Linked DNA regions of Homo sapiens: all the other regions are linked to region 1. Evidence: fine-mapped expression QTL. A gene starts in region 1. Each other region holds a variant in brackets. All regions are shown on one strand. Distances are from middle to middle.

The links. PIP is the estimated chance that this variant, and not a neighbour inherited with it, causes the effect.
Region 2: its variant is the best candidate, but not a certain one, in a credible set for the expression of RBM44 in subcutaneous fat (FUSION, PIP 0.57).
Region 3: its variant is the best candidate, but not a certain one, in a credible set for the expression of RBM44 in sensory neurons (Schwartzentruber 2018, PIP 0.89).

Annotation. Positions count from the first base shown.
Region 1 is chr2:237,793,055-237,803,963 of GRCh38, forward strand. It overlaps RBM44 (RNA binding motif protein 44), which reads left to right and starts at 5,725. Exons shown (of 16, transcript NM_001080504.3): 1 at 5,725-5,807.
Region 2 is chr2:237,772,849-237,783,030 of GRCh38, forward strand. It overlaps LRRFIP1 (LRR binding FLII interacting protein 1), which reads left to right. Exons shown (of 24, transcript NM_001137550.2): 22 at 18-97; 23 at 1,510-1,614; 24 at 6,574-8,795. The coding sequence ends at 6,684. Among named protein-coding and RNA genes, the nearest start is that of RBM44, 21 kb to the right of the region's middle. The variant G/T (reference allele first, on the strand shown) is at 3,110.
Region 3 is chr2:237,760,610-237,771,518 of GRCh38, forward strand. It overlaps LRRFIP1 (LRR binding FLII interacting protein 1), which reads left to right. Exons shown (of 24, transcript NM_001137550.2): 20 at 9,334-9,383. Among named protein-coding and RNA genes, the nearest start is that of RBM44, 33 kb to the right of the region's middle. RefSeq lists a silencer at 1,820-2,032. The variant C/T (reference allele first, on the strand shown) is at 7,470.

The DNA.
Region 1 (10,909 bases):
AAATAGAAGGGTATTTCTGCAATATTGTTAAAAATACTATCTCAAACAGTTAACATCACATTTGGTAGAAAAACAGCAAATTGACACATTTACATTTAAATCCAGAAGAAAAAAGATGCCTTGAAGCCCTAAACTTTAGCACTGTTGTAAAGTTTCAGACAGCACAGCAAAACACAAAATAGTAATAAAATATTGGAAAACGGGCAACATAAGTATTGTACTCAATTGCAAAACTACAGATGATGTAATGAGAATTCCTTAAAATACTAGGATATGTGATCAATATTCAGAAATGAATAACTTTCCTATATATCAAAACTTACCAGTTAGATTTAGAATATCTAACTAAAGATTAGTTCATTAGGATCTCATAATCACAAACAAAAACCACCCAAAAGACTGGGTACGGTGGCTCATGCCTGTAATCCCAGCACTTTGGAAGGCTGAGGCAGGCAGATCACGAGGTCAGGAGATGGAGACCATCCTGGCTAACACAGTGAAACCCCATTTCTACTAAAAATACAAAAAATTAGCCGGGCGTGGTGGTGGGCACCTGTAGTCCCAGCTACTTGGGAGGCTGAACCTGGGAGGCGGAGCTTGCAGTGAGCCGAGATTGTGCCACTGCACTCCAGCCTGGGGGACAGAGTAAGACTCTGTCTCAAAAAAAAAAAAAAAAACCCCACCCAAAAAAAGCCTCCCACACAAATTGAAGCAATAATAATAATCCTAAGAAATAGAAGAACCTACATTAGGAAATCTATACATTCTGCTGAGATACAAGACACGAAAAACTGTAGAAAGATGTATGGTAAGAATAAATATCATAAAGATATAACTTTCACGTTTATAGATTTAATACATTTCTTATTTTTATTTTATTTTATTTTATTTTTTTGAGATGAGTCTCGCTCTGTCGCCCAGGCAGGCTGGAGTGCAGTGGTGCGATCTCGGCTTACTGCAAGTTCCACCTCCTGGGTTCACGTCATTCTCCTGCCTCAGCCTCCTGAGTAGCTGGGACTACAGGTGCCCGCCACCACGCCCGGCTAATTTTTTGTATTTTTAGTAGAGACGGGGTTTCACCGTGTTAGCCAGGATGGTCTTGATCTTTTGACCTCATGATCCACCTGCCTTGGCCTCCCAAAGTGCTGGGATTACAGGCGTGAGCCACTGCACCCCGCCAGATTTAATACATTTCTTATGAGAACCCCTTTGAGATTTTTGGGGAGGTAATCTCACAAAATTATTATTTTTTTTTCTTTCTTTTTTTTAAGAAAAGAAAGATCTCACTCGCTCAGGCTGGAGTGCAGTGGCATGTACTGCACTACACGGAGCTCACTGCAGCCTCAAACTCCTGGCCTCAAGCAGCCCTCCTGTCTCATCCTCCAAAAGTGTTGGGATTACAGTGAGCCACCATGCCTGGCCAACAACAAAATTATTCTAATATTCACTTGGAAGTTTTAAAAAAACCAACATTGCAACTAGACTAGATGATTTTGATAAAACAACAGTTGAGGGGGCCTCTGCCAGGTATTTTCAGTGTTACAAAGGTGCAAGGATAGGCCCCTGCAATGGGGCGACCCAGCCTTGCTCAAAAGGGCCCAGCTACTCTGCTCTGCCTTATTTTCTGCATTCCCTGAGGATTCCCAGGGTGTGGCTTCCATGCTATTGAGACTGCTCTACAAACACGCCGCCCTTTTCTGCATCCTGTCTATTCCACACGTGTTAGCCCCCACTAAGTTGTGTGGTATCAGTTATACTGTACGTTCTTCAAGAACTGCTGTAAGCTTTTCATTCCATGGCCTGCCTAATGCAGAGCAAGACCTCAGTAGGTGTTTGCGGAATAAAAAATTTTAACGGCTCCTGAATAGAGAGGTTAAAAATGTAGAAAGGCATCACAGTCCATGTGGGAGAGTAGCTCCATGGTTTCTCTCTATAGATAGCTCCCCGAAAACACCCACAGTGAGGCTCTGTGAGAAACGGGATTATAGGAGATTTCTATTTTCTTTTTCACCCTTTCCTGCATTTTCTACATTAAACACATGTGACTTTAATAACATTAAATATTTCAAAGTTATAAGCAAAAAAAAGTGTAAAAAATCAAATCATAAAAGGCACAAATCAAAGTTATTGTGTGGCTGGGCATGGTGGCTTACGCTTGTAATCCCAGCACTTTGGGAGGCCAAAGCGGGCAGATCACTTGAGGTCAGGAGTTCGAGACTAGCCTGGCCAACATGGCAAAACCCCATCTCTAAAAAATGGTAGCTGGGTGCGGTAGTGCAAAACTGTAATCCCAGCTACTCGGGAGGCTGAGGCAGGAGAATGGCTTGAACCCAGGAGACGGAGGTTGCAGTGAGCCGAGATCGTGCCACTGCACTCCAGCCTGGGTGACAGAGTGAGACCATGTCTAAAAACAAAAACAAAAACAACAGAAAATACTATTGTACGAATATGTTTATTCTGAACTTGAGCTGGAGTAAGCATCTCTAATATCACTGAAAATAAATGACAAAGAGACGGATGGATTTCTTTTTTTTTTTTTTTTGAGACGGAGTCTCGCTCTGTCGCCCAGGCTGGAGTGCAGTGGCACGGTCTCGGCTCACTGCAAGCTCCGCCTCCCGAGTTCACGCCATTCTCCTGCCTCAGCCTCCCGAGTAGCTGGGATTACAGGCGCCCGCCACCACGCCCGGCTAATTTTTTGTATTTTTTAGTAGAGACGGGGTTTCACCATGTTAGCCAGGATGCTCTCAATCTCCTGACCTCGTGACCCACCCGCCTCAGCCTCCCAAAGTGCTGGGATTACAGGCGTGAGCCACCCCGCCCAGCCAAGAGACTGATGGATTTCATAAAAATGTAAAATTTCACATCAAAACAATATAATCCCCAAATCAATTACGTAAGTCCAAACGTGGCAGAGCTGCCTGGCAGAAAAGGCAGAACCACTAGCTCCATACACAGACACAGGAAACTCTGACCAAGAAGAGCAAGGGTCCCATGCCCTAGGGCCAATGGGGAGTATCTGGAGACAGTGTCAAAAAAAACTCAAAGAGGCCAGGCGCGGTGGCTCAAGCCAGTAATCCCAGCACTTTGGGAGGCCGAAGCGGGTGGATCACTTGAGGTCAGGAGTTCGAGACCAGCCTGGCCAACATGGTGGAACCCCCATCTCCACTAAAAATACAAAAATTAGCTGAGCGTGGTGGCAGGCACCTGTAATCCCAGCTACTGGAAGGCTGAGGCAGGAGAATCGCTTGAACTGGGGAGGTGGAGGCTGCATTGATCCGAGATTGTGCCACTGCACTCCAGCCTGGGCAACAGAACAAGGCTGTCTCGAAAACAAAACAAAACAAAACAAAACACCTCAAAGGGCCCAGAGGAAGGCAAAACAAGGACACTGGATCCCACAGTTAAACAAAAACAGCTGAGGTCACTTAAGTGGGAATGTTTCTTCCCCTTGCCGTAGCAGGAGGCTTGGTGTGTCTCATGCAAACAGCCCATTTGCCCTTCAACCCGCCTCCCTGCCAACAACCGGCAGCCCCTCCTGCCACCTGCTCAGTGGCTTGCCTGTAAGCACAGCATCACTGTCCGGCACAGCTTACCTTTTCTGTAGCCTGGTGACACATGTGATGTCTGTGCTCAGCCCATCCACTCATAACACAACATTTCATCTCTATTCCCTGAATCCCAATAATCCTCCCTAAGGATGGCATGATCACTGTCTTCGATGGTTTAAAAGGTTGATAAATGAAAGATTTGACTCTTTCTGTGTTGTACCCACCCACAGGGTGGAGAGGAGACTAACAGTGAAATGAGCATTTGGCAAATGGCTGTTCAGAGAGGAATTTCTCAAAATTCTAACTGTGGTGGAGCAGTCAAAGGAGAAACGCCAAGGGTCTAGAGTAGAACGTGGTTTCCAGCTGTCTTGACATCAGGGCTGCTGGCCCACAGACACACTTCCAGAGCCACCCCTTCCAGGGTCACCATGGCCCAGTCCTGCTCCAGATGCCATCTGCCCAGCAGCCCAGGGGAGAGTGTCCAGCCTTCTAATGTGAGCCTCAATCTGAACCCCTTTCTATAACAGAGGCCAGACCTCATAATCTCATCAGCAGCTCTGGCCTGCTGCTGCCGTGGCCGCCCTCTCCAGCCACTGGCGTTAACTTCCAATAACATAGGGACTTCTAAATGAAATCCACTGTAAAAGGACAGGCCATATCACTTTAAAAGACACTTGAAAGCACTTTTGGTAATGGCAAGATTTGCGATAAGTGTATTACATTATCCCAAGATCCATGCTCACGGTCCACTGTCCACCACTGCACCCTCAGCCCCTGGCCCCTGGCAGGCCAATAGCAATCTGCAGAATGAATGAATGAATGAATGAATGAAGTGCATTTCAGAGACTGCAGCCTCATTTGAGGGGATAATTTGGGGGTAGGTGCAGTTTTAGAGCCCCTCCTCTATCTGCCACCTATCCAAAGTCCTCCGTGGCCCAACAATCAAGTGCATGTTTAGACTAATAAGCAAATGAAGCCACCTGCAGCTCTATCCTGTCCCCACCCCTTCAGGACTGTGTCATTTTATACAGGTTTAAATTCCCTATCAAGGATAAGACTAGGCACAAAACATGGGGGGCAGGGGAGGGGATGCAAAAACTCAGTAATCTTTTAATGCAATCTTTTAAAAAATCGAAATTAATGCAAAAAATCCATAATAAAATATTCAAATTTAATTTAATTTAATTTATTTATTTTGAGACGGAGTCTTGCTCTGTCATCATCCAGGCTGGAGTGCAACAGGGTGATCTCAGCTCACTGCAACCTCCGCCTCCTGGATCCAAGCGACTCTCCTGCCTCAGCCTCCCGAGTAGCTGGGATCACAGGCGTCCACGACCACACCTGCCCGGCTATTTTTTGTGTTTTTAGTAGAGACGAGGTTTCGCCATGTTGGCCAGGCTGGTTTCGAACTCCTGACCTCAGGTGATCCACCTGCCTTGGCCTCCTAAACTGCTGGGATTACAGGCGTGAGCCACCGCGCCCAGCCCAGAATATTCAAATTTTAAATAAAGACAGGACCAGTAACAATGTACCCTGTGGAGCCATTTTAAGAGTCTGAGGCGAAAGGAAAAAATAGGACTGAATTTTTTCATTACTTTTGACTTTTTTTAGAGACTGCATTAAAATATTATTTATCTTGATTGCTATTTTGGCAGCCTCTGAAATCCTGTGCTCATGACAAATGCCTCACTGGCCTCACCCTAGTCGCGGCCCGACCCTGCTAACGGTATTTCTAGAAGATGGGCAGAGGACAAGCCAAACCCCGGGAGGGACCACGCGGCCTGGGAAACAGTTCGGCAAGGAGGCCGGGCCCCTGTCCCGCCTCTGAGGGCGGAGGACTCGGCCTGCACCGGACCCAAGCGAGGGGCAGTCTGGCCTCTGCTGGCAGAAGCAGCGCTTCCAAGTATTTTCATATGGTGACTTTGCAGAGCTGCGCGGTCCAGACGAGGGTTTCAGGCTGCAAAGCGGGAAAGTCTTGGGGGCCGCTCTGCGCTCCAAGACAGACGCCCACAATCTCTTCTACGTCGTGCAACATTCAAGCAGGCGGCCTCCTTCCCGCGCTTTCGCGCCCACAGGCTGGGCCAATCACAGTGCCGCACTTTTCATACTGCCCGACAGGCGGTGGGCGGGCCGCTGGTGACTGTTACCCAACAGGCGCCGCGGCTGCTCCGGTGGCGCCACTGACTCGGAGGCGGCTGCGGAGAGCGGGGCGCTGGCCCGTGGAGGCGGCAGCGGCGGCGGCTTTCTAGCGGATCCGAGGTGCGACGGACAGAGACGCGGGGCGGCAGGTCGGGCGGCGAAGCCGGCGAGGGCGAGGCCATGGGCTTGAGCGGTCGGGGTTGGCGAACCCCGCGTGTGGCCGGTCCCGGCGGCGAGGCCCGTCCCGCTGAAGCACGCGGGGACTCCGAACGGCGGTGTAGGCGAGGCCAGCGAGGCGGGCGGGGGACTGGCGCGTTCCTTGGGCGGCACTGGAGTTCCGGCGCCCTCATAGCGGGCGCCGACACCGCAAAAGTCGTTCTCGAACGAAGTCGCGGGGCCGGTCTCCCAAACTTGGTTATGTCCCCGGGGAAAGCTAGAAATTCGCACATATGCTTCTTCTTGCCGTGGAGACTGATGGAGCCTCTGCTGCGGGGCGGGGACTCTAGCGAGAGGGGGACGTGAAGTTCGTTCCGTACTCAGGCGTGTGTGCCCCTGACCGACGCGTAGGACGCCCTGGAGGACGGCGCCAGCTCCTGACCTAGTGTGAGGTGCCCGGACGGTTTCCCTAAGAAGCGCGTATTTAAGATGAGATCTGAAGTTGAGCGTGAACTCAAGGTGGGGTAGGGGGTGGGCAGGCGAGAGAACGCACAGGGCCTGACTTTTTGCATTTTTTTAGTAGAGACGGGGTTTCAACGTGTTAGCCGGGATGGTCTCGATCTCGGTCTCTATCTCCTGACCTCGTGATCATCCCGCCTCAGCCTTCCAGAGTGCTGGGATTACAGGCGTGAGCCACCGCGCCCGGCCAGGGCCTGACTTTTTAAGGAAATGGAAAGGAGGGTGTATCTGGAAGACACCAAGTGCCAAGGCTAACACAGAGCCCGGACCGTTGTAGGGTTTTACAGGACTTATTCAGATTTTAATCTGTCTGAAAACAGTGACAGTCCGTTGCTGAGTTTTAAGCAGGAGCGTAACTGATTCGATAAGCATTTTAGAAAGATTATTCTGGCCAGATGTGAGGTGATTGTCTGCATAGCTGTGAGAGTCAGGAGTTAAAATTGACAAGACCTCAGGGATAAGGGAGGTGTCAAGGGCGAGTCCTGTGGTTTCTGGCGATACCATTCCCTGGAGTTTCGTGCACTGGAGGAAATAGTTCGGTAAGTGAGAACTCAAAGAAAATAATAAAAATGGGCATGTACCTAGGAGTGGAATTGCTGGATCATGTGGTTGTCTTGTGTTTAACTTTCTGAGGAAGTGCCAGACTTCTCCAGAGTGGCTGCACCATGTTACATTCCCATCGGCAATGGATGAAGGTTCTGATTTCTCCATGACCTGCTCAACACTGTTGTTACTGTTATTGTTATTGTCATCCTAGTGGGTGTGAAGTGATATCTTTTGGTTTTGATTTGCATTTCCTTCATGACTCTTGATAAATTGAGCATATTTTCATGTGTTTATTGGCCATTTGTATATCCTCTTTGTCAAGTCATTTGCTCATTCTTAATATTGGGTTGTTTGCCTTTTTATTGTTCAGTTGTAAGAGTTTTTTCTATATTCTAGATAATAGACCTCTATCGCATACATGATCTGCAAGTACTTCCGTTATACTAAAATTTTCTCTTTGGCAAACGTTTTTAACTTTGGGTGTCTTCATATTTAAGAATGAAGCTTGCAGCACACTGCAGATTTCATTAAATGCAGATTTGAGTGTAGAATCAGATGTGAATGAGAATCCAGCTTGAGATAGTGTTGCTCTTCTCACCAATTTTTTGAAAATATGTTTTTAATTTAAAATTTTACTTAAGTAACGAATGTATTTTCTATGAATAAATTAATAAATATTTGAAAATGTTGCTTTAATTTCTAATATGGTAAGTATTGATGGATATTACCCAAATAAAAAAAAATACTCCTTGGGACTCTCAATCCTTTTTTTTTTTTTTTTGAGGCGGAGTTTCACTCTTGTTTCCCAGGCTCGAGTGCAATGGCATGATCTCGGCTCACTGCAACCTCCGCCTCCCAGGTTCAAGTGATTCTCCTGGCTCAGCCTCCTGAGTAGCTGGGATTACAGGCACCCACTACCACGCCCACTCTATTTTTAGTAGAGACGGGTTTTCACCGTGTTGGCCAGGCTAGTCTCAAACTCCTGACCTCAAGTAATCCACCCACCTCGGCCTCCCAAAGTGTTGGGATTACAGGTGTGAGCTACTGCGCCCAGCTGGGGTTCTCAATACTTTTTAAGAATATGAAGAGCGGGCTGGGTGCAGTGGTTTATGCCTGTAATCCCAACACTTTGAAAGGCTGAGGTAGGTGGATCCCTTGGGCTAGGGGACCATCCTGGGCAGCATGGTGAAGCCCTGTCTCTACAAAAAAGTTATCCAGGCATGGTGGTGCATGCCTATAGTTCAGCCATTTGGGAGGCTGAGGTGGGAGGATCACCTGAACCCAGGGACGTTGAGACTGCTGTGAGCTGTGTTGCTACCATAGCACTCCAGCCTCCAGCCTGGGCAACAGCGTGAGACCCTGACTTAAATATATACACACAATATTTTGAACAATCAAATGTATCAAATATATATGTATTTGAATTATCTTGGCCCGCTGCAACCTCCATCTCCTGGGCTCAAGTGATCCTCCCACTTCAGCTTCCCAAGTAGCTGGGAACACAGGCTCACACCACCATGCCCAACTAATTTCTTGTATTTTTGTTAGAAACAGGGGTTTCACCATGTTGCCTAGGCTGGTCTGGAACTCCTGAGCTCAAGTGAGCCACCTGCCTCGGCCTCCTAAAGTGCTGGGATTACAGTTGTGAGCCACCGCACCTGGCCAGACCAGTTCATTTTTATACATAATAACTCTAGTTATCTTATAATCTAAGAAGAAGGAATGACTCTTAACTTGGAGCCATTCCATATTTGTCCTCTTAAATTGGGATGCTCTATGCCCTTCTCTGCTTCTTCTTAGCCTGGCTAGCCCCTACTTGACCATCATTTACTTTTTTGATAAGTTTTTCCTTACCTTTATTAATGCAACTGTGCTATACAATTATTGTCTACTTAACTGTCTTATTTAACCCCAATTGTCTTATTTAACTTTGTGAATCCCAAAGTAGGTACAGGTTATATTTTTCTTGGTGAGAATTTTAGTTTTTAATTGCTTTTTTTCCTTTTTTCTATCAAGGATTTGAACATAAAATTAATTGCTTTTTAAAAACAACTAGCAGTTTGAAAAACTCCAAATATATTTTTGAGCATGTTACATTTTATCCTTTCAGTCAAAATCAATACTAAATGAGTCCTACCCCCAATGGCTAACTCTTACTCATCATTCAGATCTGAGGTTAAGTAACTCTCTGAAAAGCCTTCACTAATCCTTAGACTAGGTTAAGTCTTGTATGTTTCCCATACCACCTTGTGTTTCTCAAAATATCCAGATTGTAGGAATTACTTAGGGCAGGGGTTCCCAACCCCCAGCCTGAGCTCTGCTTCCTGTCAGATCAGCAGCAGCATTAGATTCTCATAGGAACTCAAACCCTGTTGTGAACTGTGCATGTGAGGGATCTAGGTTTCGTGCTACCTATGAGAATCTAACTAATGCCTGATGATCTGAGGTGGAACAGTTTCAGCTTGAAGCCACTACCCTACCTCCAATCCTCTGGTCCGTGGAAAAATTATCTTCCACAAAACCGGTGTCTGGTACCAAAAAGGTTGTGGACTGTTGTCCTCGAGTATTGTTTCTGGGCCCCAAATTAGGCTGTTGAATCTATATTTTTAATGAGCGCCCTAAGTGATTCTTATATCAGGTAAGTTTGGGAAAACATACTCTAAATTTATAGAAGATTTATGTGCATCCATCCCCCTTTTGGAAATTGTATGCCTGTTGTGCTTCATAGAGCCAGTGACTGATCACCTCTCTGTCCTCAACACTTAACATATAACTTAGAAAACAGGCTCAGTCATTACTGAATAATATATTAAAGAGTGATTCTCCAAAGAAAGGTATTCGTCTCTGAAACTGGAAATGTAATTGCTTGGTAATAGGGTAGACATGTATTTAACACCATTAGAAATTGCCCGGTTTCCAAATGGTTTTAACAATTTGTATTCCCTCAAGCAATGTATAAGAATTCTAGTTTGTCCACATCCTCACCAATATCTGGTGTTAGCACTCTTTTAAAAGCCATTTTGGCCAGGTGCACTGGCTCATGCCTGTAATCCCAGCACTTTGGGAGGCCGAGGCGGGTGGATCACTTGAGGTCAGGAGTTCAAGACCAACCTGGCCAACATGGTGAAACCCCATCTGTACTAAAAATACAAAAATTAGCTGTGTGTGGTGGTGTGCACCTGTAGTGCCAGCTACAAAGGAGGCTGAGGCAGGAGAATCACTTTGACCTGGGAGGTAGGGGTTGCAGTGAGCCAAGATCACACCACTGCACTCCAGCCTGGGCGACAGAGCGAGACACACACACACACACAGTCTCTCTGTCTCTGGGTGACAGAGCGAGACACACACACACACACATACTCTCTCTCTCACACACACACACATACTTTCTCTCTCACTCACACACACACACACAAATTTTAAGCCATTCTAATGAATGTGAAGTGGTACCGTGGTTGTTTAAATTTGCATTTCCCTGATGACTAATGATGTTGAGCATGTTTTCATACCTATAAGCAATTTAAAAAATCTATTTGTACAAGTTATTTATGTAATCTGAATAAGCGTCTCCTTTTGGATATATGGATTGTGAATACTTTATTCCAGTCTTTGGCTTGTGTTTCCATTTTTTAAGTAATGTCTTTTGATGAGGAAAAGTTTCTTAATTTTGCTGAATCCCAATCAACAACTTTTAAATCAACACCTTTTGTGTTCTAAGAAATCTTTGCCTATTCCAAAGTCATGAATATATTGTTGTGTTTTGAGAAACATTATAAATTTGGTTTTCACATTTAAAAATATGATTCATCTCACTTTTATTGTGGTGTGAGGTGTGGGTCCAGGCAATTTTTCCCTCTAGGTAAAAATCTAGATAGTAGAAATATACTTGTGCCAGTACCATTTATTGAATATGCCTTAGACCTTTTTTTTTTTTCTTTTTTTTGAGACAGAGTCTTGCTTTGTCACCCAGGCTGGGGTACAGTGGCGCAATCTCAGCTGAC
Region 2 (10,182 bases), 21 kb before region 1:
TCTCTTTCAACCTTTAGGGGATGCCAACAGACAGATCAGCGACCTCAAATTTAAACTTGCAAAATCTGAGCAAGAGATAACTGCATTAGAACAAAATGTACGTGTAAGCAACAACGGGCAGAACTGATGATTGACTGGAGTTTTACTTGCTAGAAATAGCCCTGAAAGGCTGAGGACCAGAAAAAGCCGAGATTTTTAGAACCAAGAAATGTCCTAAGAGGGATAAGTTAAGACAGCAAGTCTTTCCATCCGTTTCTTACAGAGCAAGCAGGAAGGAAAGAATTCTTAGAATTTAAGTTGTTACAGTAGATACTAATCCTTTATCAACAACAGTTAGTTGTAGAAAATAGCTAATGTGGCTTGGGAGTGTTTTAAAATTTTGTTCTTTAAAATTAATTTAGTTAATTGGCCGAGCGCAGTGGCTCACACCTGTAATCCCAGCACTTTGGGAGGCTGAGATGGGTGGATCACTGAAGGTCGAGAGTTCGAGACCAGCCTGGCCAACATAGTGAAACCCCGTCTCTACTAAAAATACAAAAATTAGCCGGGCATGGTGGCAGGCGCCTGTAATCTCAGCTACTCAGGAGGCTGAAGCAGGAGAATCGCTTGAACCAGGGTGGCAGAGGTTGCAGTGAGCCGAGATCACGCCACTGCACTCCAGCCTGGGCAACAGCGAGACTCTGTCTCAAAAATAAAATAAAATAAATAAATAAATAATGTAGCTAATTAAAAAAACACATCATACTGGGACGTCCCTCTTGCCTGGGCTTTTAGCCTTTCTCTTGCAGCGAGGCCCGCCCTCCCTGGTGTCTAGACATGGGGCACTCCTGCCTCTAGCACCCTGGGCCCTAGGGCAATTTGTGTTCTAGCCAGAAAGAGAGAAAAAAAACAGGACTGTTTCCCCCTCCATTGTGGGTGTACTTGGCTGGAACTTTTTAGAATGTTTATAGAAACAAAAATGAGAACAGCACAGGTAGAGACGATGTGTGCTTTTGATTGCGGCAGAGTGAAGGTGTCCAGCAGGCCTTCGCTGCTGCCGTCTTTCATCTCAGAACCTTGGCTGGGGAATGCCATGCCGAAGCCGCCTCCTTTCACTCCTCGCCCTGTCCTTTCCTCCTCCCACCCCCGCCACCCCAGGAGAGATTAGACTGGAGCTGAGGTCGTGGCGGAACACGTCCCTTACCAGCACCATTCTGCCTGTTCCAACAGAACAGCCCCACGCAGCGGGAGAAGAAGCAGGCAGCAAGGTGCCAGCACTGCAGAAACCACCCTGGTGGACGGGGTCAGAGGAAATGGGTCCCCATCATGTCAGCACAGGGTCGCCCAGAAATAGTAACCAAGAATAGCTTGCTTGGCTCAAACCCACACCATAGTCCAAAATGTTATAAGTATTTACATGGTGTATTCTCCCATTTTATTAAATCACACTCTTTGATCTCAAAGTAAAGAAACTGAAGAAAGAAAACAGGCTTATCAATTTATACATATGGTTTTTTTTCTACCTTTTAGGTAATAAGGTTAGAGAGTCAAGTATCACGTTACAAATCAGCGGCTGAAAATGCAGAAAAAATAGAAGATGAACTTAAGGCAGAAAAACGGAAACTCCAAAGAGAGGTAAATTTCCTAGGCAATTTCTAGGAAGAGAATGGCTGCCAGTATTTCTCTAGTGGGGACGGTACAGAGAGGATTTACTACTGTGACATCTGCCCCTGGGCTGGTCATTGTCAGATCATCCCACACCACTCTGCAGTGCCGGTGTCTTAATAAAGGAAGGCATGGCGCAGCCAGTTAGGGCTTAGGGCTAGACCCTTGCTGGCATCAACTAGTTCATCTGTCAGTTTTGAGCATCTCCTATAGGTCTTGTCCGTAAACGTCAAGAGAATGAGATAAAGGAGTAGCCAGGCCTCTTATGCTCCGAATATTTTTTGTGTCATGCAGAATGAGCCCAGGTGGAGGACCAGGAGCCCATGGGCCTGCTGTGGCCAAGAGCTGGGTGTGGCACCAGGGCCAGGCCACAGCTGTCTCAGGTCACCCTATGGAGAGTGCCCTTGAGAAGCCGAGCTGCTGTTACTCCACCTGCTGGTCACACTCCCAAATTACCATGCTTGCCAATTAAAACACATACTTTACCTTACTGAAGACACTTGGCAAAGTTGTTTGTTCAACAAATATTTACAGCACCCGTTGCATGCCGGGCACGGGTTCAGGTGCTGGAGATGCAGCTGTGACCTTACAGACAGGAGTCTCCGCCTCCATAGAGCCTGTGCTCTGGAAGAGGGAGGTCCATAAAAGTGACCACAGGCAGGAGAGGGGCTGGGGTGCGGAATGGCCCAGGCCAGGGCAGTTCTAGGTAGGTGGCCAAGGAAGACTTTCCTTCTTGTGGCATATAAGGACAGGCCTGAACAGCCCAGGGAGTGAGCCAGGCAGAACTGGGAGAAAGCCTTCCGCGCAAAGGATCAGCACGTGCAGGGGAGCTCGGGGCAAGGCACTGCCTTTGTCAAGGAACAGTCAGAGCGGTGGAGGCCAAGTGAGCAGGGGGTGAGGGGGTGGAGGGAGCAGTGAGAGCACCTCAGCCCGTGAGGCAGGGCCCTGGAGGCCATGGACAGGACTTGGGATCCTCCTGTGCATAAAGTGGGAGCTACTGCAGGGTTTTGAGCAAAGGAGTGGCTTATGTTGATTTATGTTTCAATAGGATCACTCGGGCCGGGCGCGGTGGCTCACGCCTATAATCCCAGCACTTTGGGAGGCCAAGGTGAGCAAATCGCTTGAGCTCAGGAGTTCAAGACCAGTGTGGGCAACATAGTGAAAACCTGTCTTTACATAAAGTGCAAAAAAACTAATTAGCCGGGTGCGGTGGCCCGTGCCTGTAGTCTCAGCTACTTGGGAGGCTGAGGCAGGAGGATTGCTTGAGCCTGGGAGGTGAAAGCTGCTTTGACACATGAGCGTGCCACTGCACTCCAGCATGGGGCGACAGAGTGAGACCGTTTTTCATTAAAAAAAAGGAAAGAATCACTCATTTTATATTTAAACTGTAGGAAAGGGACTGTGGAGGAGAAACCAAAGATGCCATTTCTCTCCTCTTTATTTTATTTATTTATTTATTTTATTT[G/T]ATTTTATTTTATTTATTTATTTTTTTGAGACGGAGTCTGACTCTTGCCCAGGCTGGAGTGCAATGGCGCCATCTCGGCTCACTGCAACCTCCACCTCCCAGGTTCAAGCCTCCCACCTCAGCCTCTCGAGTAGCCGGAAATACAGGCACCCACCATCATGCCTGGCTAATTTTTGTGTTTTTGTAGAGACGGGGTTTCTCCATGTTGGCCAGGCTGGTCTTGAACTCCTGACCTCAGGTGATCCTCCTGCCTTGGCCTCCCAAAGTGCTGGGATTACAGGCATGAGCCACCATGCCTGGCCCATTTAACCTTCTAGCCTACTTTTGCTATGGTCAGAGAACATGGTCCCTGTTATACCTGGTCTTTGAAATTTGTCAATACTTGCTTAATGGCCTGATACATGATTCACTTTTGTAAATGTCTCCAATGTGGTTAAGAAGAATGTGTAGTCTCTGATTTATGGATGCAAAATTCTGTATACTTCCACTGATCAAACTTGTGAAGTGTGCATTCAGATCTGATTTCTTTTGTCTGCTTAAATTCTCAGTAGCTGATAGAGATTTGTCAAGCTCTTCCAAAAGATGATGGTGGATTTATCTCATTCTCCCTATTTCTCCTATATATGTTGAGGCTATTGATACTAGATGTTTAAAATTCTGATATCTTCTTGATGAGTTAAACCTTTTATCACTTTGTAGTGACCCTTTTGGTCCCTGCTGCTGTTGACCTTGTCGGGTATTCACGTGGCCGCATCAGCTTTCTTTTGGTTAGTGTTTGTCCACTTCTGATTTTTGCATCCCTTGGCTTCCAGTCTTCCGTGTGTTGTTATGCGTTAGATGATCTCCTTCAGATGCACATAGCTAGGTGGCGGTGGCTCTTAGTTGAATCTGGAATCTGTGGATCTTAATAGAGCCCTTAGTCCATTGTTATTGGTATATTTGGACTCGTTTTCACCATCTGACTGTGGATAACCATTTGTTCTGTCTTTTGTGTGTCATTTTTCTCTTGCCAAATTTAAATTTTATATTCAATTTCTATTCTTTTCAGTGATCACACATGGGGTATTTTTATTTAACTTAAAAAAAAATTAAAGTTGAACACTATCTTTACTCCCCTCCTATAAAATAGAAGGACTTTTGAGCACTTTAGCTTCACCCTCCTGCCTGGCATGCACACCCTCACACATATGTGTATATGTGTATATGTATATGTACACATGTACATCCACACATAAATACTTTTGAGCTTCATAAATCCCACTTATCAGATAATACTATTGTTGTGTTGTTGTTGCTGTTGTTTTATATTGCCCATGTTTGTTTGACATAACTACATATTGGCCATTTTATATGTCTGTCCTGCTAGTGTCTCAGACTGTACTAGAATCATTTTCCTCCTCACTGAAGTACATACTGTAGAAATTCTTTTAGAGCAGACTTCTTGGTGGTGAATTCCCTGTTTTTGTTTGTACATGTTTTCGTTTCATCCTTGTTCTTGGACAGTAGTATTCAGGGACATGCAATTCTGTGTGGTGGTCATTTTCCTCAATGATTATAGCGATTATGCCACCATCTGCTGGCTTCCATTGAGCTGTTGAGAAAGTTGTTGTTTTAACGGTCGGTCCTTTGTAGGGACCTTTTTTTTTCTTCTCTAGTTTCTTTCAGGTTCTGTTTGTCTTTGATTTTCTACAGTTTTACTGTTAGATGTAGTTTATTGGAATCTTTCTGCTTGAGATATATAGTGTTTCTTGGATCTGTGAAGTCTTTTTAAAAATTGATTTTGGAAAATATTCAACCATTAACTCCTTAAATAATTCCTCTTTTTTAGTCTCTCCACTTTCCCCTCTGGAACTCTAATCAGAGGATGTTAGAGATTCTCATTGTCTCCACATTTTTTAACCATCTCTCTTTCATGTTTTCTATCTCCTTACCTCTCTCTATTGGATAATGCCTAAAGTTTTTGCAAAGATTTTCCAGTTCACCATTTTTTTTAAAAAGTGTCTTCATTGTTGATAGTTTCTTGCTGCATGTTCATGTATGTCCTCTTTTTAAATTGTATTCTTATTCTTTAAATATTTCATACACAGCTGTTTGGTTTTCTGTATCTGACAACTGAAACATGCTCAGTCTTTGGGGGTCTAATTCTGTCATTTATTGCTTCTGTTGACTCTCACTCAAATGGTTTGTCACCTTAGTGTTTTGTGAGCTTATGCTTGATTTTAATTTGTAGGAATAACTCCAGGCTTAACTTGTGGAAACTTCCTGCAAAAAGGGCTTGCTTCTGCCTCTGCTAGTGAGGTGGGGTCGGGACTTCTGTCCCAGGACCCAAACAAGCTTCCTTGAGTGTTTTGGGTCGAAAGCAGAGCCATAGACCCTGTTCTTGTCACCCCTCCAAAACCACGTTCTCCCAGCTTAGGGCACCCCACTCTGCCCTGCTGCCTGTGGGTCCAGATGATGCCCTGCTAATGTGGCTTCTGCAGCTCGTCTTCTGCCTGACTCTCAGGCTCCATGGCCCTGGCTCCCAGGTGTGGCCGTCTTGGCCTCAGGCATTCCTGCCTTGGACTCTGGCTGCCAGGGCTGTGGGGACCACCTTCGCCATGCAGTCCAGGCTCAGCTCTTGTTGTTTGTGTTTGTTTACCTCATGCCTCACTTACCTTTTGTGAAACCATCAGGATCCCCACTGGGCGTGTGGCTCACGCCTGTAATCCCAGCACTTTGGGAGGCCGAGGTGGGTAGATCACCTGAGGTCAGGAGTTCAAGACCAGCCTGACCAACATGGTGAAACCCCATCTCTAATAAAATACAAAAAATTAGCCAGGTGTGGTGGTGTGCACCTGTAGTCTCAGCTACTCAGGAGGCTGAGACAAGAGAATTGTTTGAACCCAGAAGGCGGAGGTTGCAGTGAGCCAAGATCACACCGTTATACTCTGGCCTGGGTGACAGAGCGAGACTTTGTCTCAAAAAAAAAAACAAACAAAAAAAGAGGCCGAGCGTGGTGGCTCATGCCTGTAATCCCAGCACTTTGGGAGGCCAAGGCGGACAGATCACGAGGTCAGGAGATCGAGACCATCCTGGCCAACATGGCAAAACCCCGTCTCTACTAAAATACAAAAAATTAACTGAGGGTGGTGGCGCACACCTGTAGTCCCGGGAGGCTGAGGCAGGGGAATCGCTTGAACCCGTGAGGCGGAGCTTGCAGTGAGCCGAGATCACGCCACTGCACTCCAGCCTGGGCGACTGAGCGAGATTCCATCTCAAGAAAAAAAAAAGAAAACCATCAGGATCCCCAAGGGTGTTCCCTCTCTGGAGTCCAGTTGTTTCAGAGGAGGAAGGGCATCATGAGGGACCAGGGGCCAAGTTATCATTTTATTTTTCAGTAGGATTGGAATTTCGGTAACACAGAACCCTGTTATGTTTGGAGGAAACAAGTTCCTTAAAGCTCACTGCCTTTCCTCCGTTCCCAGCTCCGCTCTGCATTGGATAAAACAGAAGAGCTCGAGGTGAGCAACGGCCACTTAGTGAAGCGTCTGGAAAAAATGAAAGCAAATCGGAGTGCACTCTTGTCCCAGCAGTAAATTCCAGCTCTGATCAGGCAACTGGTTGGTGACTGGAGAGCATTGTTTCATAGGCTTTTCTCTGTCCTATCTGGGAGCGCTGCTTCTTCCCCTGCCTTCCGAGAGACGAAGACCGTGGCGAGCTTGGCGCTTAGGGGCTCCCGTGCCATGGCTCACCCCAGGGAGCCCCAGCAGCCACCAGGTGCCTCTGTCTGCAGACCCCTGGCCCGGGCTGGCGCCGACGCTCAGAACCTGCAGGTACTTCATAAGCACACAGGGGCCTCGAGGGAGCTCTGTGTCTGACCGCACAGCAGCCTCTGAATGCCGCTGGAAGTGATGATCAAAGTAAAGATTCAGTTGGGACTTGAGTTTTTTTTTTTTTTCATGTGTCTTGCTGAAGATTAAGGGGAAATGTTACAGTGTTGGGACTTCCTTTCATGGCAGAATCTACAATTTGAGCGACTTCAGTAGTATCTCTTAGTCTACGCTTTTCATACACAAAACACTGTGGAACCACAAGCCATTACCAAGCAAAACTCTTTCACTGGAAACAAGGGGGCAGTCTAGAAGTAAAAGTGACCTTAAGAAGACTCTTTACAGGCAACAAATGAAGCTTTTCTAAGGGATTTTTGCATCAGTTCAGTCATAAGAATACTTTTTTCCAGGGTAATTAGGCAATAGCTTCACTGAAAATGACAGCTTTTCATTGCATTATTTAATCCTTATATTTGGAATTGAAGTCGTTAACTTCTTTTAAAGAATGTACTATTAGAAAAATTAAAAATGAAATGTTGAGAGACTTCAGCAATGTGGTTCTAATTTTTTTCCACTGAGAAAGAAGATCTTTAATTTCATATTAATGGTTCTGTATATTTTGGGTCATCTTTTTATTTTTTAAGAATATCAAGTCAATTCATTTTTCTTTCCCTATTTAAAAAAAAAGGTGTTTTCACAGAATGAGTGCACTTAAAAAGTGAAGTGAAGGAGGAGGTAACAGTAGAGACGATGGCAATATCATCAAGGACAAAAGTAAAAACGTTTAGCTACCTGCTGATTTTTAGTGACTGTTCATATATGTTGTATTTCAAGTATGGCTGGTGAAGCCAGTCAGCTTTTCGGGACGTTAGCAAGTGGAAACTGAGTCAGTATCATCCAAAACCATATCTAGTCTTAACACATGGAGAATGCTGGAGTGAGGGTTGTGAGTTCAGGGTATATAATCAAGAAAACACTCCCAGCATAATGCTAGGGGTCACCAGTGTCCATCCCCCAGAACTGTATGGATCTAGGATATACACAGCTGCGTTGCATTAAGAAAGAGATGAAATCTCTATTAAAATACACAAGATTTTTGTATCTCCTTGTGCAGAGGATATTTGCCACTGCCCATTGGGAAGCAGACAAGTTATAGGGGGCTGGGGGCCAACACTGGCAAGTAGGAAACCACGGGTCGGACAGGTGAGCAAAATGTGCTGGCAGGTGGGCACCACTGGGAGACCCACACTGCACACCCGGGCACCGTATGAACAGGAAAGAGGAAGGAAGCTGGACGAAGCCCCTCAGGGACCCTGTGCTGACCATGCTGGGCCCACCGGCAAAAGGGAGATATTCAGTTCCTTGTCTCATCCTTAAGGTTTCTTCCACAACATCTGAATACAAGCATGTTTAACTGGGAAAATGTCTATGTCATGCGTGAATAACACCAGCAGCAAACACTCACACATCACGCAGACACGGCCGGCAGCATGCTGACGCTTTTAGGTATTTTTCACTCATGCAATTTTCACATATTTTCACTCATTTCATTTGCACGGAAATTCTATGAGGTAGATGCTGTTATCAAATCCACATTACAGATGAGGGACCCAGGGTCCAGGAAGGTGAACTGGCAGAAGTCTCCCAGCTGGTAGAACAGGGCTGCAAGGCATCGATTCCCAGGTGTCTCACAGCCCTGAGAAGATGGCGTTTTCCCTATCAGTGGCTCTGAGGAAGTCAAGCCTTCAGTCTCTACCTCTCCCACCAATTCTTTTGGAAACAGCAAACCAATGTTACACACACTTCCTAATCCAGAGGAAGCTAGAACACGATTTTTAAATTTATTTAGTAAAATAAAACTTTTTTTGCAGATGTAACGAATGGAAATTGGTTGCTGGCTTCTTTCATCCCTGCAACCTAGCGTTTCTCAGCCTCAGCACGACGGTCGTCTGGAGCTGGGTCGTTCTTGGTGGCTGGGGTGGCTGTCCCCTGCACCGTGGGATGTTGAGCAGCAACACTGAACTCTACCAACTCATTGCCAGTAGACCCCACTCCCGGTCATGACACACAAAAACATCACCAGACATTGCCAAATGTCCACTGCGGGGGTGAGGGGCGTGTAAAAGCGCCTCCCATTGAGAACCACTGCTGTAACCTGAATTAGAAGATTTGGAAAAGAAATGGTTGAAAACCCAGACCAGGATCCCTGTTGTATGTTTCCTATGAATGATTTTCATTTTTAGAAATGAAATAACATCTAGGACATAGAGCAAAACACTCAAAACACATCATAAATGGATAACATAAATAGATAAAAATCCAATGCAGTTCAGAATTACAATCAAATGTTATTTTCTCTTGTGTTTTAGAATTCCTCATTTTCATAGTCAAAATATCAACTAAAGCATCAAAAGTTCCTGTTGATATTTTTGAAAATGTGTTACTACTTAGCAAATTTGGATTTCTGGTTTGTACAGTGCTGAGCCCTTGAGGAATACCAGAAGAATGCACACCTTAAGGAGGCTGTGGTTTTCAGGGAGAGAACAGCCATGCATGAGGATGGCCATAGCAGAAGGCGGAGGGGTGGGGAAGTGCCAGCTGTTAGCTATGTGGAGCCAGCCAGTTGCAAATTTTCAAACCGGCAGAAGCATCTGTTGTGTTTCACTAAATGACCCGAGCCAGATGTGGCCCACGTGTTCCCGAGCCTGCCTGAGTATCTGAAGGGGATAGAGCTGATGTCCACTGACCTGCCTGGCTCCCTGCACCTTCAGCCACATTTCGGAAGCACTTGCTACCCAGTGTTAAGGATGTGCGGAGGCTTAGAGGATTCCAGCTCTGTGGTCAGGGCCTTTTGCCCTTGTGTCCAGGAGCCTCCAGGGCTAGCTCCCATCACTCAAGGACTGGACAGTTGTCCCTGAACCCCAGCCCTGTACTTGCTGCCATGCCCCTCGATGCTGCTGCCTAACCACTTGCTAGTGTGTATCTCCATGTATGGCCAGCCCCCCACCCCTGCCAGTTCCCCCTTGCTTGCTTCTTTCCCCTCTCTGCCAGAATAGCTCTGATCACCACTTGTGGATGGCTCCTACCTGGTCCCCAGGTGCACTAAATGCTAAGCAGGTCCTGAGCTCCACTGGCCCTGAGTGAAGTTGCACTGTCTGTGGCTGGATTTGTCTCTTCCAATTGTCCATCCTCTTGGGTGGCATAGAAACAAGAACATCAGAGACTTGGGAAGAGAACTCTGAGCTAGAAATATCTGTTGGCTGG
Region 3 (10,909 bases), 32 kb before region 1:
GGTTGAGGCCGTCAAGTCAGTTGGCCATATTTGCAAGCCAACATCGACATCCTGGGCAGCATTCAGCGCTTTGAGGGTACGGGGTGCCTGTGGACAGCAGGTCCGTCTGTGTTGCCTTTTTCAAGCCACCGCTCGAGGTGGGCAGGCGGCCGTGGTAGTGGGTGTGGCGGTGCTGAGAGTCTGAGTATGCCCACCTTTGTCAGAGGGGATCCTCCTTTGTATGCCACGTGTTTGCTTCTGAAAGAATATAAAACTGGGGAATCCAGTAGATCAGAGGAATATTTTATACCATTTTCAATGATCTGATTTGTCATAATTTGTCATAAGAGTTGGCTTTGGGAGAAACCTTCAGATTCTGGCGTGCAGCCTGAAGTTGCAGCGTGCAAGTGAGGCCTCATCTGTCACTGGTCACCCTCTGCGTTCCAGTGTTTTACAAAGAGGCTGGAATAAGGTCAGGGTCCGTGACTTTTCATTTTAATGTAGAAGCTTTCATCTTATTTCTTTTTATTTATGGAAATGTAGACACCTCCAGGCCCCATCTTCTCAGGCCTCGCATTCCAGGGAGGTACCTCATTCATTATCTTTATGACTATTAAAGAAACACAGCTCTTTTCAATTGTGTAAAAAAAGTTGTGGCCTAGTGCAGTGGCTCACACTTCTAATCCCAGCGCTGCGGGTGGCCAAGGCTGGAGGATCACTTAAGACCAGGAATTCCAGGCCAGCCTGGCAACCTAGCAAGATTCCGTCTCTAGATAGGTATGTAGTATCTATATACCGTTGTTGAGAAAAGATAAATTAATCAATTTCCATCATACCTTTATATGAGCTACCCGAACAGCTAGGAATCTGATTACGCTGCTCTTACTCAAATACACATTTTATAAATCTTTGATAACCATTGTGAAATGTTGTAAGAACCAGAAATGTCAGTTTTGAAAGTGGCCTTCAAATGACTTTTGATCACATATTCCTTCAGCAAAGAATTGTAGGATCCAATATGTATGTTTATTTTAAATCTACATATGTATACTATTTCATTAATATAAAATGTACGTTATAAAATATATGCAAAGATATGCAAAGAAGTTTTAGAGTAAAACTCTAAATAGAATTCCTAATATTTCCCCCATTTTCCCTGGGATATGGGCACCCCACCATGGAGATCACTGGGCTATAAAATTATCTAGCTTTGACTTTCAGTAACATAGTACCATATCTAATCTGCTGGGGTTTTGTTTGGAGAGTCCAAAAATTCCAAAACAGTTTGATGTTCTTTAGACGATGAATAATTTATCATTTAATTTAGTGGTCATCTTGATCTTGAACATTTGCCTCCTGCTGGTCCTCTCTCCCTAGTCCCTTAGGGAATGGAGCAGAGGTATCAGGGCATGGACACAGGGTGTTTTCTCAGGAAAACAATAGTTGAGTGGCAGAAGATAGATTTCCTTTCATATGAGCTATTTCAAAAGCATCTTCCTTGAGACTGACCTTGAGGCTGCATTTCTAAAAGTGCACTGAATATTCTTTTTAAAAATTACTTGAAAGCTGCTTTTAGGGCTGTGTGACATGGAGTGCAGTTTGACAGCTGCAAAAGTACAAGTTGTCAAGTTGTTCATTGAGAAGTGAGAGTGGGGAATTGAACCTTCAGTCTGTTCCTAAACCCATCATTGTGGATTGTTTGGCTGCCTGATCCAGAGTTCTTTCTATTTGTTGAAACTTAACGTCACCTTTAAAAATCTGTCCACACAAGATGGCACCAGCAGCCACTCTGGCCTTTGATGTGGTGGCAGTGGCCCTCACTGACCCAAAATTTACTAATGCAACTGCTGCTTTGCCGCACAGAACTGGCAAAGGCTTGTTTCTCATGACTCTTTGATGACTCTGTCTTTAGGAATAGGGGTGGGTGGGATTTGGAACGTGTGTTTACATTCTAATGTAGATTATGTGGCCGCCACATCATGGGGTCCCTTCAATTTTCTCAATGGTCTTTTAGGAAGAGCCAGTGAAGTGGAGGTGAAAAATGAAATCGTGGCGAATGTGGGGAAAAGAGAAATCTTGCACAATACTGAGAAAGAACAACACACAGAGGACACAGTGAAGGACTGTGTGGACATAGAGGTATTCCCTGCTGGTGAGAATACCGAGGACCAGAAATCCTCTGAAGACACTGCCCCATTCCTAGGAACCTTAGCAGGTGCTACCTATGAGGAACAGGTTCAAAGCCAAATTCTTGAGAGCAGTTCTCTCCCTGAAAACACAGTACAGGTTGAGTCAAATGAGGTCATGGGTGCACCAGATGACAGGACCAGAACTCCCCTTGAGCCATCCAACTGTTGGAGTGACTTAGATGGTGGGAACCACACAGAGAATGTGGGAGAGGCAGCAGTGACTCAGGTTGAAGAGCAGGCAGGCACAGTGGCCTCGTGTCCTTTAGGGCATAGTGATGACACAGTTTATCATGATGACAAATGTATGGTAGAGGTCCCCCAAGAGTTAGAGACAAGCACAGGGCATAGTTTAGAGAAAGAATTCACCAACCAGGAAGCAGCTGAGCCCAAGGAGGTTCCAGCGCACAGTACAGAAGTAGGTAGGGATCACAACGAAGAAGAGGGTGAAGAAACAGGATTAAGGGACGAGAAACCAATCAAGACAGAAGTTCCTGGTTCTCCAGCAGGAACTGAGGGCAACTGTCAGGAAGCGACAGGTCCAAGTACAGTAGACACTCAAAATGAACCCTTAGATATGAAAGAGCCCGATGAAGAAAAGAGTGACCAACAGGGAGAGGCATTGGACTCATCGCAGAAGAAGACAAAGAACAAGAAAAAGAAAAACAAGAAGAAAAAATCCCCAGTACCCGTAGAAACCCTTAAAGATGTTAAAAAAGAGTTAACGTATCAGAACACAGATTTAAGTGAAATTAAGGAAGAAGAGCAGGTAAAGTCTACTGACAGAAAGTCAGCAGTGGAAGCCCAAAACGAGGTGACTGAAAATCCAAAACAGAAAATTGCAGCAGAAAGCAGTGAAAATGTTGATTGTCCGGAGAATCCTAAAATTAAGTTGGATGGAAAACTTGACCAAGAAGGTGATGATGTACAAACAGCAGCTGAGGAGGTACTAGCTGATGGAGACACATTAGATTTTGAGGATGACACCGTTCAATCATCAGGCCCGAGGGCTGGTGGTGAAGAATTAGATGAAGGTGTTGCAAAAGATAATGCTAAAATAGATGGTGCCACTCAAAGCAGTCCTGCAGAACCAAAGAGCGAAGACGCAGATCGCTGCACCCTGCCCGAACATGAAAGTCCCTCACAGGACATTAGTGATGCCTGTGAAGCAGAAAGTACAGAGAGGTGTGAGATGTCAGAACATCCAAGTCAGACCGTCAGGAAAGCTTTAGACAGCAATAGCCTAGAGAACGATGACTTGTCGGCACCAGGAAGAGAGCCAGGGCACTTCAATCCAGAAAGCAGAGAAGATACCAGAGGAGGGAATGAGAAGGGCAAAAGCAAAGAAGACTGTACCATGTCCTAAGCTGAGGCAGGCGGCAGGCGCGGTGCACAGGAAGTCTCAGTGTGAAGGGGTCTTTTCTCTCCACTGCCAATGTAAGTAGAATGTTCTAAATTCATAGAGAGGCACTGTATGACAATTACCAGGTGCTCTACTGCTTTAAGTTATAGACTGTTACTTGTAGATTTCCATGTAATCATTGAGGTTATCACCCAGATTAGAAAGACATATTTGTTATCAGTGTACGTTCTAATTGAGAGCATTCCAGTAGTATCAAACAATAATGTCTACTGTTTATAGTCCACTTAATAAAAATAGAGGCATTTACTATTTGCCTTAGGCTGATAGGAATGTGGGTTTTCTTGACCAAATATATCAGCATCTAATTGAAATGACCAAATAGCATTCTTAGACTTCTGTATTATGAATATAATTGATATTTAAATTAATGTCTTGTTCACATATGTGTACTTTCATATTTGATTTTAAAATGTACATTATAACCTGTATGGTATTTTATTTAAAGGAGATAAACAGCCAAATAGCAAATAGGTCACTGAATGATAAGATTTGCACCTTAGAACAATAATCATTTTAAGGATAACAAGTAAATGTCTGAAAGCATGAGGGGCTTTATTTGCCTTTACCTCATATGAGTCTTTGATCTTGAACCGATACTTTTGGATCTCATTGTTGATATACCTGAATTTACTTTGTAAGAGATTTTAACTTCACTTCATGCTGATGATGTATCAAATTCATTTTATAGAAAGATTTAAAGTTTTTTTCTGGAAGTGATATATGTCAAATTACATTTCCTACTGCAGTATTTGAGCAGGGACAGTCATTTTTTAAATGTTTTTGGCCGGGCGTGGTGGCTCATGCCTGTAATCTCAGTACATTGGGAGGCCAAGGCAGGTGGATCACCTGAGGTCAAGAGTTCGAGGCCAGCCTGGCCAACATGGTGAAACCCTGTCTCTACTAAAAATACAAAAAATTGGCCGGGCGTGATGGTGGGCGCCTGTAATCCCAGCCACTCCAGAGGCTGAGGCAGGAGAATCGCTTGAACCTGCGAGGCAGAGATTGCAGTGAGCCAAGATCAAGCCATTGTACTCCAGCCTGGACAACAAGAGCGAAACTCTGTCTAAAAAAAAAAAAAAAAACACACACACACACAACACAATGTTTTCACGCCTGTAAACCTAGCACATTGGGAAGCCAAGGTGGGAGGATTGCTTGAGGCCAGGAGTTCAAGGCTGCAGTGAGCTATGATTGCACACTGTACTCTAGCCTGGGAGACAGAGTGAGACACTGTCTCTAAAAAAAAAAAAAAAAAAAAAAAAAGTTTTTGAACCTTAAAATACTTTGTTTGAATTTCTAATCATCATTCAAAAGAGCAGTAAAAAATGGTTACTTGTTCTTGTACAAGCTACTAATTAGACTATAGTAGGATATTTTAAAGAGCTGAATCACTTTTGGTATTTTGGTATAAATATTTTCATTTGTTATGTCCCAGTATATTCTTACTGGAAAATTCTTGTTTTGATCTGCCTGAAGAAAATATCTGTTTTCTATATAAAAAAATTTTTTAAAATAATTGTAAAGTTAGATTTAAAATTGTAAAATATAAAATCACAAAGGAATGTACCTTATGAATGTTGTTGACATTTTATGAAATTATGTGGATTCATATTACTGTTACAAGATAGAATTGAATGCAAAAAGACCAAAACCTCAATAAAATTTGAGGAAAACGTGTTATTATGTAATTGAAATAAAAACATTTTATAATTGTGCAAGCCTGTGGTTCCACTCTTTGGGCTGCTTGAAGTCTGAGTCTGACTACTGTTGTATGTAATACCACCTTTGAGTAATATCTGCTTGGGGGTTGCTGATTCCTATTGGGGTTCCGTGGAAGACCCACGCCTGATGCCCTCCCTCAGTAAGGAATGCACTTCCCTCCTGGCATCGAGCCTGGGGCTAGCATGGGCATTACTGGGAGAACTGAGACGATTGTCACGCACCATCCCCTGTGATCTGTGGTTCTGATGTGCAGCCTCAGCTGAAAACGGTCTTCACCTGTGGCTGTGCTTACCTGCGCCACTACTTACAGTGTTTTGAAGAGCAGGATGAAAACGGCAAAAACCTTGACTGTTTCTGCTCAAGTGTCCTGAAGTAGAGGATGGTGGGGATGATAAATGCTTGCTAGGAAATAAGTCCAAGGGCTCTATAGGACTTCACAGGGTTTTAGTTTATGTCTCTAACTTTAGCAAAGCTGCATTCCTATTGGAATGCATACTGGAAACAGCTCTCATTCCTACCTTTAAAGGGCTCTTGGAAAGCAGTGTGACAACCAAGGTCACTAAATGGTGAGATCATCAAGCCATTTTAAGTTCTTTCTCATGTTATTCACCAGCACCCTGCAGGACGTTGGGCACACATCACATCCCTCAGCTCAGCCATCCAGCCGTCTCAGTGATTCACCACTCATTTGCTTAATTAATAGACAGGTTTGATCACTTTGTACATGGAAGGCACTGTGCCAGTGAACAAGCAGTTGGACCCAGCCCTCCAGTAGGGAATGGACAGCTGAAAATCCATGAGCAAGAAAGAAGGAAAAAGAAAGAGTTCTGAGCAGCCAAACCATTTCTCGATGATTTCAGAGCCTTCATTCTGAGCATCAGTTATATGCTCTCCAGTGTAATGACTTTATAGCCAAGCACAGTAATTGATATTACTGTGAAGGCCCTTAACTTATCAAGAAATGGTTGAGGCCGGGCACATTGGCTCATGCCTATAATCCCAGCACGTGGGAGGCCGAGGCAGGCAGATCACTTAAGCCCAGGAGTTCAAGCCCAGCCTGGGCAACATGATGAAAGCCCATCTCTACAAAAAAAATATACAAACAATTAGCCAGGCATGGTGGCATGTGCATGTAGTCCCATGTAGTCCCAGCTACTTAGGAGGCAGAAACACCTGAGCCTGGGAGGTCGAGGCTGCAGTGAATTGTGCTCACACCACTGCATTCCAGCCTGGGTGATGGAGTGAAACCCTGTCTCAAAAAAAAAGAAAGAAAAGAAAAAGAAAGTTGACTTAGCTATACTCCATATAAGAAGGTATAGAAATATATAGAGCAATTTAGAAAGATTATAGTGTCAAAAGATTCAAACTCAGAAAAGAATTGAAAGGTTGCCTGCCAGCCATATCCCCAGACGAACCTAGACCACTGGGGTTTCACTATCATACAGAATAGAGAAAAACATTGGTTACTGACACCTGAAATCAAAAAGCTTGGATATTTTTCAGTCCCAAACCAGAACATAGCTCCCGTATATAAATGTAAATCTTCCTTCAAAAGTATAATTAAGTATAATTATGGGTGTATGTCAAAAATATAGAGGAAGATGGATTTTTACTTATAGGTTGTTATACAAAGTTGGGACAGCAATCAAATTTTTAAACAGTTTTCAAGAATGTATGACCTTAAAAGAAATGTGTGACCCTGATCACTTTCCATATTTGTAATTAACCGGAGACCTAATGGTCTGAACACTTAAGTTTCCACTATCACTAGGACCCTGAATGCTAATTCTGGGGAGTTTAGATGGTTTGGGGCTCCTGTTTTCTATTCATAGACTCCCTTTCTGGGAGACCACCCCCCAACCCTGTACAGCGTACCACCCGTGGCCACCAGCCAAGGGAACACAACAGTAAGATTTGTTCTAAACGTCTGGGCCCCTAAGGGAAAGGGAGGGGTGTTTGTGTGTGCATGTATTATGTTCAGAATATGTACTTGTTCAGTGTGATAGTTGTACGTGGAGAAAACTTTGTCTTTCAAGAGGAAAATCCTTTTGTTCTTTTTGTCCCTATCTACTGCCTCTCTTAAATATTTTTCAACATGTGAATGGCTGGTGGCTGATACAGGGAAAAATTTCCCAGCTATACAGACACTATAAGTCTAC[C/T]GGTGATGTGCCACTATTTATTCAACAATATAGACTTGGTGGTTTTTAACGCTACGAAAACTAGTACTCTTTATTTTCTTCATGTCAAATTATTTTGCTTCATTTCTTTTTCCATTTTCTTCAAACTCTTTCGTTCTTGTTTTCTTGTCCAAGTCTCCTTTAGAATTTCTCTTCCTGAAAAGTTTCTTCTCTATTTATAATGTTCTCACTATACAACTAAATGTCAGATTACCTATATCAATTTTGCTTGCACTCTTATTACATTTTAACACTTATTTTCTAGTGCTTATGTAGAATATTTGAAGTTTTCTAGAAGAAAACAATAACAATTGTACAATAGATACTTGAGCTTCAAGATCACATTCTGGTGTATTCAGTGTTTCTTATGACGCCTGTAGTTTTTGTATGTAGGAGTATTAAAACATGTAAGAAAATGAAAAGTGATATTGGGCAAAAGAATCAGGTTCATAACTGCAAAAATGTTTTGTTTCAATGTTGGGTGGGTTATGGGGGGGAGCGAGTAAAACATCTGTCAGAAGTAATTTGACTGTAAATTAAAATAGAACTCAAAAGGATGATAAATTTAATTTATATTGTGCTTAACATTATCTGGTGTTTACTGTGCCTTTCAAAACAACTTAGGATCTTTGGAAAACATAATTAGAGAAAAATGTAACTTGGATTAGCATGTGGCTAGATGATTTTTTAAATGAAAATGAAGATGCATTTTATATGAATTATTTTCTTTTCACATGGCTAATCAAGGTTAGTTTTTCATTCTATGAAGAATCTGGAGGTAGGCCGCATGACAGCAGTGTCCTAGTGAGCTAAGAGCTTTGAGTCAGGGTCTGACTCGGGCGTGTGAGTTTGGATCTGGAAAAACAGCGGGTGCAGTGTTTAGGGGAGTGTTCCCGTGGCTGGGCCGCAAGGCCTGAAGAAACTTGCTTAGTGGTTCTGGGCCTCTGAGCCTCATCTATAGAAGGAGGCTATGATGAAGCCTACCCATAGGGCTTCTGGGGCTGAAACGAGCTAATGATGTCGAAGCTGCTAGAACTGTACCTGTGTCAGAGCGAGTGTGCAGCATACGTTATCATCACTGTCATCACTCCAGCATTCTGACTGTGCCTTTAAACTAGTGTGGGATTTTGCCCAAACCTCTAAACCCTCCCCTAGCCGTGGTTTCCCCCGCAGTCTGAAGACTCTAATACTTGACACTCGTTCAGAGAGATGTTTGGGGAATTTATAGACACTTAACATTTATGCATCCTTATATATCGGGTCCAGGAGGAATTACAGACACTTAAACCATTACTGCCTTCTTCCTCAAAAGAATAACAGCTTTGGTAACTGGGTTAGCAGAGGTGTTAGTGGACTTAGGGTTGTAAACAGATACTCATGGCACTGACATCGATGAGTCTATGAGGGAAATTAGAAAGATAAATACATCTGGGATGTAAACTCGGAAAGGCGAGGCTGTTCAAAATGTTGGTGCTATTGAATTGTGATTCTCGGTGTTTGTACATTGCTAATAATGTTAAACCATGAAGCCTGTGAGATCTTGTGTTGCAGCGTGGTTTGGCCCTAGCGTTCTTGCATGCTAACCTAAGGTAGAAGATTAGCAGCCTGTTTGCATGCAGCCGGATGCTGCCCCTGACGTGAAGCATGTTCTGGGAGGTTGACCCAACCTCCTTTGGCTGTGGCCTCATTCACCCCGTCCTGTCTGTGGCCTCATTCACCGTGGTACGTGTATAACTACTTCCATCATTCATTTCACTAACCTGAACGATCATTCTTCAGTTTAGCAATGTGCTGAAAGGCGCGGCACGCGGATTCACCTAAACCTGTGTCTTTGTGATTTCTTTAGATATTAGGTTGAAAAAGCTGGTTGATGAACGGGAATGCTTATTGGAACAGGTAACAATCTTTTTATTACTTTACCGGTTCATGAACAGGGCACCTGAAACCACCTGCCCATCCTTCCTTCTTGCTTACTCAGAAAACCCCTAAGTTAATCATGTCTGAAAGTCTTTATCAAGCCAACTGGTGTTCTTAAGATTGCTATCCAAATAGAACATCAAAGTTAATATTTTCATCCAAAGAGAACATCCTGAGTCATATGAGGTTTAATAAGGATGTCTCAAAGACCCAAAGCCATGGAATTGAATTTGGTACATTTTACTGAATTGCTGCTTAAAATAAATATAAATGTTGATTATTAATAATATTAATGATTAACTGTTGAGAGACAAGAGCATTACTGAGTCATTCCAAATAGCACTTCTCTTGTCCATATGGGTTGTTTGTCCATAAAAGTCAGTTTTGTACTCTTGGTGATCAGCACCCCTCTCTCACAGGTGTTTCTTTGTTACAGCTAAACAAAGTTGTTTTAACCATGTTTATCTTCATTGCTCTCTCCTACCTCAAGAAGTAGCAGGCCAGGTGCAGTGGCTCACACCTGTAATCGTAGCACTTTGGGAGGCCAAGGCGGGCGGATCACTTGAGGTCAGGAGTTCAAGAGCAGTCTGCCAACATGGTGAAACCCCGTCTCTACTAAAAATACAAAAATTAGCCGGGTGTGATGGTGCGCGCCCGTAATCCCAGCTACTGGGGAGGCTGAGGCAGGAGAATCGCTTGAACCCGGGAAGCAGAGGTTGCAGTGAGCCGAGATCGCACCACTGCACTCCAACCTGGGTGACAGAGCAAGACTCCATCTCAAAAACAAAGAAACACTGAACAGTTATCCTATCTGATCTTTTTATATGCAGGATAGTGATTAAATCACTCTACAACCACTTTCCTCTAATTTCTCCTCATAAGCCTAATCAAATGTATTTGCCTTACTTCCTACCATTCTGTTGAAGATTCTCCGAAAATTGGAGAAAGCACTAAATATGGTAGGAAGATTCTCTTGAAGTTCCTGTGATCTTTTGAAACTGCATTCCTGAGTTCTATCCTTACTTCCTTAAAGCAGCATGCACTTTTGGTTTGTTGTTAATCAGGGGTCTCCTGTGCTTGGTGTGTGGGGTAGGAAGGCAGGTGATCACCTGCAACAATTCTTCACAGATTGGAAGTTAAACATGAAAAGCCCCCGGAGACCCCACGAACTAGATGCCAGAAAGTTCTGCAGTCATTGACTGTTAACTGCAATTCCAACTATACGGTCAGCCCTCCATATCCATGGGTTCCATATCCGTGGATTCAACCAACATGGATTGAAATATTCCAAAAAAAAAAAAAAAAAACCCATAAATTCCGCAAAGTTCCAAAAAGCATAGCTTGAATTTGCCCTGCACGGAGTCCTGCACTGAATCCACACAAATGAAGTGAGTTGTAGGCGTTGGGTATTAAAAGGAATCTAGAGGTGATTTAAAGTGTACCGGAGAATGCAGGTAGGTTTCTGCAAATACTGCACCATTTTATATCAGGGACTTGAGCATCCA